2 linked regions of the Homo sapiens genome follow. The protein of the gene in region 1 interacts with the protein of each later gene in a pairwise test. Each region holds a gene or a part of one and is shown in the gene's direction. Other genes may lie near its edges.

Region 1 (3,439 bases):
GGCACATGCCACCTGGCAAAGGACCCTTGAGTAAGTGAAGGTCTCCTAAAACTGGGATTAAGAAACCTTGCTCTCCTCATCTCCAAGGCAGGGACCATCAAGAACCTACAGACTCCATCTCTTCTGCAAGCCTCATGCCAACCCTGGGCTATTGCTGCTGCCCCTTAAACACAGGCTGTCCTTAACCCACCTCTCCTGCCCTGTGATATGTCTGCTGAGTTGGCCTGGCCATTTCCAAGAGGCTGTAGAAAGGGGAGAATGTCAAGGAAGACTTTTGGTAGAGAAGGAGCAGAAAGATGTGTTTTTGGGAAGAAGAAGACCTCTAGGAGGAGCTAGTAGGAATGTACATGAAGCAATTAGTCTGAAACTGGCTTCCCCACTCCCCCGTTTCTCCTTTTCCTATCCTTATAGGCCTGTCCCTTGCCTCTGCCCTGGATTGGTTGGCAAACTAAAGGACTTGATGTACATAACTCCTGTCCCTTTTCCCTTACAAGGTGGGGATTGCCCCTGGCTTTGCCTCTTCTTTGTGCCTTTGGCCTGGGGTGCATCTCCTCCCGCCCTTCCATGTGCCTTTCTTTGCCTCTGCAGTCTCATTTCTCATAATTTTGCAAATTATATTTTGTTGCTTTCTTACCTACTATTGGCCCTAAATAGCAGAAAGAAGAGAAGTGACCGAGAGAACCTCAGATTCTTCATTGAGGATTGGTATAGCCATGATTTCAGTCATAGCAAGCTTTTGCTCAACAGCATATGGGTGGGATTTTGCAAAAATCCTATTCTGATGAATCTCAAAGTAAGGCTGGTAAGAGAAGTGAGTGGTGTGACTCTTACTCCTTAGGTGCCCAGAATTTACCATCATCTCTGAAGGAGTTACAGGGAAGTGGTCTCCCCAATTCTCCCCTCCCTCCAGTATTGCCCCCTCTCACTTTAGCATATATTAATTAGCAGGTTGGGCTAGAGAAATCAGCTGCTATGCGGGTTGATTATTATTATTATTTCTAATCCTTTTCCTTATTTGCCTTCTACTCCCCTTAATCTAATCTAAAAGCTCTGTTCCATGCAACTGGAGTTCCTTATCCCTCTCTTCCCCTTCCCTTATATATTGAGGCTATGGGGTAGGAGAAAAGTGCACAACCCACCACCCCCTTTACTCGTGCATTAAAATTTCTTATTTACCCTTTTCCCCCTTCCCATTTCTTCCCACTTTCATCTACCTTTTCTGGCAAAAAGGAGCCTTTTGCTCTCTGTGACCCTAAGAGCACACTGCACAGGGAAAATTGCCCCATCCAGACCTGGCTCCACTCTTGATCTCTCTTGTCCTCTTCTGCTCTTTTCCTGGTGCTCTTTTTTCTCGGTGGGGTGTGGGTAATAGAACAGCCGTGGGCTTTTGGGGACCTTTAACTTTTTTTTCTCTCTTTTGTTTATAAAAAACACTAAACATTCAATTCCAGAGAACCAAAAATCCCACCTTCCCACCGAACACTACTAAGGGGCTTGTGTTCTGCTCCATACCTTTTCTCTTTTCTTTCTGTCTTGTTAATGCTTTTAAAAACAAATGAGTTTTTTATATAAATAAAGTTTTTAAAGTGTGTATGTGGGGGGTCTGTGTCATTTCTTCACTTCAAGCTGTTATTTCTTCCCTGCTTTGCATCTTTGTTACTTCCTTATGTATCAGTGTCCTTTCCAGAGCAACCAGAAGGAGGTTATACCAGGATTTATTTTGAGCTCAGCCCCAACTCTTTATCAAGCAACATTCTTGTTAACTATATGTGAAACATTTTTTCTTCTGAAGATTCTTAAAAATTGAATGTGGCTGAAGTTGAACATGGGAGCTTATTGCTAATTTAGAGATAGGAAACTGAAGCATAAAGAATTAATGACTTACTTTAATTACTGGAATTCTTCTGCAACATTTGACAAAACTAACCTTGAATAAGGCCCACTGTAATACGTAGCTCTCTTAAATATAACACTTAGGACTAGAAGATTAGAAACTACCAATCCCAACTACGTAATAGGAAAATGTAGGATCAAAAGGCCCATGTATATAAGTACTGACCACTGGGCCATAATGTTGCTTCTCAGGCTATATGCAGTCCTTTAGTCAGAAGTCAATAGGCCTATTTATTAATATTTTACAGACCATATTACCTGGATTACCAGGGACTATCTTTGCTGCAGAGATCAAGGGTTAAGATCTATGGGAAGATACTTATTTTTCTGAGGTCCTTATGTCCTGTCATATAATTAAAGACTCAAGAGAATTTATGTGAAATGCTTTCTGTATGCCCAAATCTTTAGATTAAAATTATATAGCTGCTCCTGATGATGGTCCTGTCTTGTTTTATTGAACTAGGACTTGGGTATGAAAACTTTCATGGGCTAGTGAGACCAGGAAATCAACTAGCTTTTAAAGCTTGATTTGTGTCTAACAATTGTAGTGTTAGATTAGAGGTTGAAGTACAAAGCCAAAAAGCTATTAAGAGTTTACTTTCCAAAGAGTTTTGATAGCCCTGCTTGAGATGATTTTTATCTAAATAGAAAAGCCTGGCTGCTTGTCAGCAACACTTTATTTCCCTGTTATGTTCTTATCCTTTGGCATTGAGCTAGATACAAACCCTACTCTTCTCTCTTCCTTCTGGATTGGTCCATTTGTTTATCTCATTCAATAAATATTTGCCAAGCACCTCCTATATGCTAAGCGTTGTGTCAAGGTTAGGTTTAGATTAGAGAGTGAAACAGATGGATCTTTTCTCATAGATTGCAATCCATGAGAATCCTCTATAGCTAAGATCTATGATCAGACGAGATCGTGTGCGTTCAGGGTGATATGGCCATAGACAAGATCTATGATCTTAAAAACACTTCTCTCTGTGCCATATCTAAATACAATGAGATGTTACACAGAATGATGTGTAAAGGCCCTATCTCACAAGTTTCTTGACACTGATGTACTTTGTGACAGAGGTCAAAGCTGGGACCTCACTTGGCCACTTTTTTTTTTTTAGACAGAGTCTTGCTCTGTCACTCAGGGGCACAATCTCGGCTCACTGCAACCTCAGCCTCCTGGGTTCAAGCGATTCTTCTGCCTCAGCCTCCCGAGTAGCTGGGATTACAGGTGTGTACCACCACGCCTGGCTAATTTTGTATTTTTAGTAGAGACAGGATTTCACCATGTTGGCCAGGCTGGTCTCAAACTCCTGACCTCAAGTGATCCACCCTTCTTGGCCTCCCAAAGTGCTGGCATTACAGGTGTGAGGCACTGCGCATGGCCGGCCACTTGTTTTTCTTGCTGAACTAATTTTCTTTGCTACAAACTGGAATCACCTCACCCAGGAAGAACTAAGAACCAGTCTTTCCATATCATTTTTTTCTCATTTTGTCTATTTTTATATCTGAAGCAAAGGTTCTTAATATTTTCATAGATGGAATTGACTAG
Region 2 (3,819 bases), on another chromosome or scaffold:
TTGCCTCCTTTTGGCCATTAAACAAATGTGTATAGAGGGCCTGCTATGTGCCATGTGCTATGCCAGGCACTAAGGATACGGCACTGAACCCTCTTAGCACTCTCATTCCAGAGGGGATTAATCCATAAGTAGAATGGGGGTGACTGGAATAGGGCCAGCTGGGGGCTTGGAGGCATGAAGATCAGATCCTGAATCAGAACAACAGGAGAAATTCTCTGGCATTCAACTCACATCTCTGGCATTCAGAGGTGATAAAGGCTACAGCAGGGCAATAGGACTGGGACTGTCGTCTCCTTTGGCTGTGCTGTTGCCCTCTAAATGTACCCTGCTTTTTCCCACCTTTTCTTTCTCTGTTCGCCCTCACTGTGCCTTGTCCCAGCATTCTCAGACACCATCCACATTGAACCCCACAATGCCAGCCTCTGAGCGGACAGTGGCCTGGGTCTCCAACATGCCTCACCTGTCGGCTGACATCGAGAGTGCCCACATCGAGCGGGAAGAGTACAAGCTCAAGGAGTACTCAAAATCGATGGATGAGAGCCGGCTGGATAGGGTACGATGGGCTCTACCAGCTCCAAGCCCCAGTGTTTCCTTTTACCCACAGGGGAGATCTCTAGTCACTTCCAAGGGAAACCTCCAGGGTCAGTTATGGTGGTAAGAAAAGGCAAAGACCTGATCACCTCTTGAGAAGCCTTCCGTCCATCTGGGGAGACCAGATACACACAGTTGTTAAAAGTCACTTTCAACTCTATTTTGTAGGTTATATATATCATAGACTATCTGGGGATCATCTATTTTAGGCTTACCTCCATGTTCTTCCCCAGGAGGAACATAAGCCCTGGCTCCTGTGACTGCTTAGGAAAGGAAATGTTACTTTACTGGCAGTAGGAGCTAATAAATTGGATGGGGATGGAGGGGGTTGCAGCTATATTACAAGTGATGTCTGGCCTACCCAGTCACTGTCCCATGGGCATAAGTGACAGTCAGTGGGCAGGGAATGCATGTGGTAAAGTAGTATGTATCAGTCATGTGTGAAAAGACCATCCAGACCCTCACTTGGTGGAGGCTGAGGGCAAAGGGCACCAAGAGCTCTGGGGCTAACACAGATAACTTAGCAGAAAGTTACTTGAGGAAGCTGTTGTTCCTAGGGCCTGAGGAAGAGGGCGGCTGCAGGATTAGGTCATATATAAAGAACATATGATCCTAACACGGGGAAGTGGTCTTTGAGCATAGGAAATGTTGGGACTGACTCAGATGGGCTTGACCAGCAAATTTAATGAGAATTAAACCCTAATATTAGCCCCAAGGCAGCCACCGTAGGAAGTTAATTCACATCTCTCCTCTGCATGTAGAAGGGTTGGTGATATATGTATGTATCCTCTTCAGAGAATGAGGAAATAGTCTTTTGAATCATTTTTTTTTCTGTGCTTCAGATGAGGAAACCTTGTTGAGAAAGGCTGTAGACTAGCACTATCCAATATAACTTTCTGCAGTGATGAAATGTTCTGTAATCTGTAGTGTTCACATGTGTCTAGTTGTGATTCAGGAACTGAATTTTTAGATCTATTTAATTTTAATTTTGTAATTTTTTTGAGACAGGGTCTTGCTCTGTCACCCAGGCTGGAGTGCAGTGGTGCAAACATGGCTCGAGGCAACCTCCGCCTCCTGGGCTCAAGACATCCTCCCACCTCAGCCCCCTGAGTAGCTAGGACTACAGGGTCGTGCTACCATGCCTGGCTAGTTTTTTTTCTTTTCTTTTTTTTTTTTTTTTTTTTTTGTAGAGACGGGGTTTTGCCATGTTGCCCAGGCTGGTCTAGAACTTGTGAGCTCAAGTGATCTACCTGCCTCAGCCTTCCAAAGTGCTGGGATTACAGGTGTTGAGCCACTGTGCCTGGCCTAAATTTTAAATAGCTACATGTGGGCTGGTGGCTACCATATTAGACAGCACAGCTGTAGACTCTAGAGCCAATAGGGCAGATAAAATGACTCTTCTGAGCTCTTCCAGCTCTGGAATTCCTAGATTCTCAGCCTAGAATTCACTTGTAGACCTCCTATCCTTGGCACCTTGACAGAGCCAAGGAGAGGGTCACATGGAGGACAGCACCTGCCTTTCCCCCGTCAATTGCCTTTTCTTCCTATGTCTCCAGCATGTGTTCTGGGGCCTGGCTTAGGGCTGAAGAGTCACCCTATTTTTAATTTCTGAGCACAGTTACTCAAGGTGTGTTTGTGAGTGTAGGTTTCTGTGTGGGTCTTCATGAGGGGCCATACATAGACCTCAGGGTGTGGGAGTCTGTGACCTTGCTCCATTTTGAGGGAACCTCAGCACCATGGCAGGGTCTTCTCAAAAGCAGGTGTGTGGATATGATCCACAGGCAGGGAAGGGGTTGGGGAAGGCAGCTGGATGTCCCTCAACATGCAGTGGCTGTGCTTGGCAGACAGGGATGGAGGCTGGGTGGTGGGCTTGGGGTGGGGCGCCCCTCATAGTGCGGGGTCGTGTGCCCGGCGGGCAGGTGAAGGAGTACGAGGAGGAGATTCACTCACTGAAAGAGCGGCTGCACATGTCCAACCGGAAGCTGGAAGAGTATGAGCGGAGGCTGCTGTCCCAGGAAGAACAAACCAGCAAAATCCTGATGCAGTATCAGGCCCGACTGGAGCAGAGTGAGAAGAGGCTAAGGCAGCAGCAGGCAGAGAAGGATTCCCAGATCAAGAGCATCATTGGCAGGTGAGGGGCGGCCTGGGGAGGGGGTTGTGAGGGAGAGCCTGAGGCTGGAGAGAGCAAGTGGGTGAGCTACTCCGCTGACTCCCATCCCCAAACTCAGGAGCCCACCAGGAGAGCCCACCACTCTCCTCCCCAGGAAGCCACCCACTCACTCATCACCAGATGGAGAGAAACCCCAACCTGCTTAGTGCATTAAATATCTCTTTACCAAACCCTGACCTCTCTTCTGATAGAGTAGCTTCGGAAGCCCTTGGAAAATGTACCTGTTCCTGTCCAACCATCACTGCATTTGCATTTACCCTAGGCCAGAGCTCCCCACTAGTTATTCTCAACTTAACCTGTGATGTTCACTCCAAACCTAAGCAGGGCTCCCTAGCCAGAGTAGGCCCTGCCCTTCCTGGGTGGACCCTCCCTCTCTAGCCTTGGAAAGGTGTTCTGTTAGAAAGGGTCTTTTAGCCTGTGTATGTTTTCAGCTGCTCCAGCAAGTCCTGGGCTCCAAAGAGGGTATCCTCAGCAAAGAGGTCAATTATCTTCAGAGTGGTGGGGTCGGGGTGGGGGGGACCCTGGGCGCACTCCAACCAGAGCCACCTCCATTTTGATCCATTCTAAATGTATTTTATGTAAGATTTAATTAGAAGAAAAGGGCTTCTTGAAATATTTTTTGAAAACCACTGCTCTAATTGATATCCTTTATGATAAATCACCTCGAGGATCTTCACAGTGAGGTGACATGGGGGATGCAGAAGCCAGGTCCTCAGCCATGGAAGGTCTGGGGAAGGGGCACTGCTGTCCTGATTGGGACGATGGAGGCCTGGAGGTGTCTGGATGGTAGAAGTCTTTGAGGCACAGAAAGCTGCCTTAGCAGGGAGGTGTAAGGGTTCCTGGGAGGAAGGTGGAGAGCATGATCCTGAGGAACAGGGAGTCTTGCATCACGGCAATGGAGGGACTCTGATTCTAAGGGATAAGGATGCCTGAGGTTTTTCCAGAGAGCTATGGGGTTCCATGGGCAGGCTCTGAGCCTGTGCCCGCCACTAACCCCACTGAAGCCCGTCCCTTCAGGCTGATGCTGGTGGAGGAGGAGCTGCGCCGGGACCACCCCG

What was found.
Region 2: the proteins of CTNND1 (region 1) and SYNGAP1 interact in binary tests that used the Homo sapiens proteins (3 or more experiments, as listed by UniProt).

The regions. Positions count from the first base shown.
Region 1 is NC_000011.10:57,816,855-57,820,293, forward strand, and holds the end of CTNND1 (catenin delta-1), read left to right. Parts: 3' UTR 1-2,686; downstream 2,687-3,439. UniProt on the Homo sapiens protein: Key regulator of cell-cell adhesion that associates with and regulates the cell adhesion properties of both C-, E- and N-cadherins, being critical for their surface stability.
Region 2 is NC_000006.12:33,444,065-33,447,883, forward strand, and holds part of SYNGAP1 (ras/Rap GTPase-activating protein SynGAP), read left to right. Parts: intron 1-379; coding exon 380-553; intron 554-2,510; coding exon 2,511-2,722; exon of another isoform or gene 2,723-2,734; intron 2,735-3,765; coding exon of another isoform or gene 3,766-3,778; coding exon 3,779-3,819. UniProt on the Homo sapiens protein: Major constituent of the PSD essential for postsynaptic signaling. Inhibitory regulator of the Ras-cAMP pathway.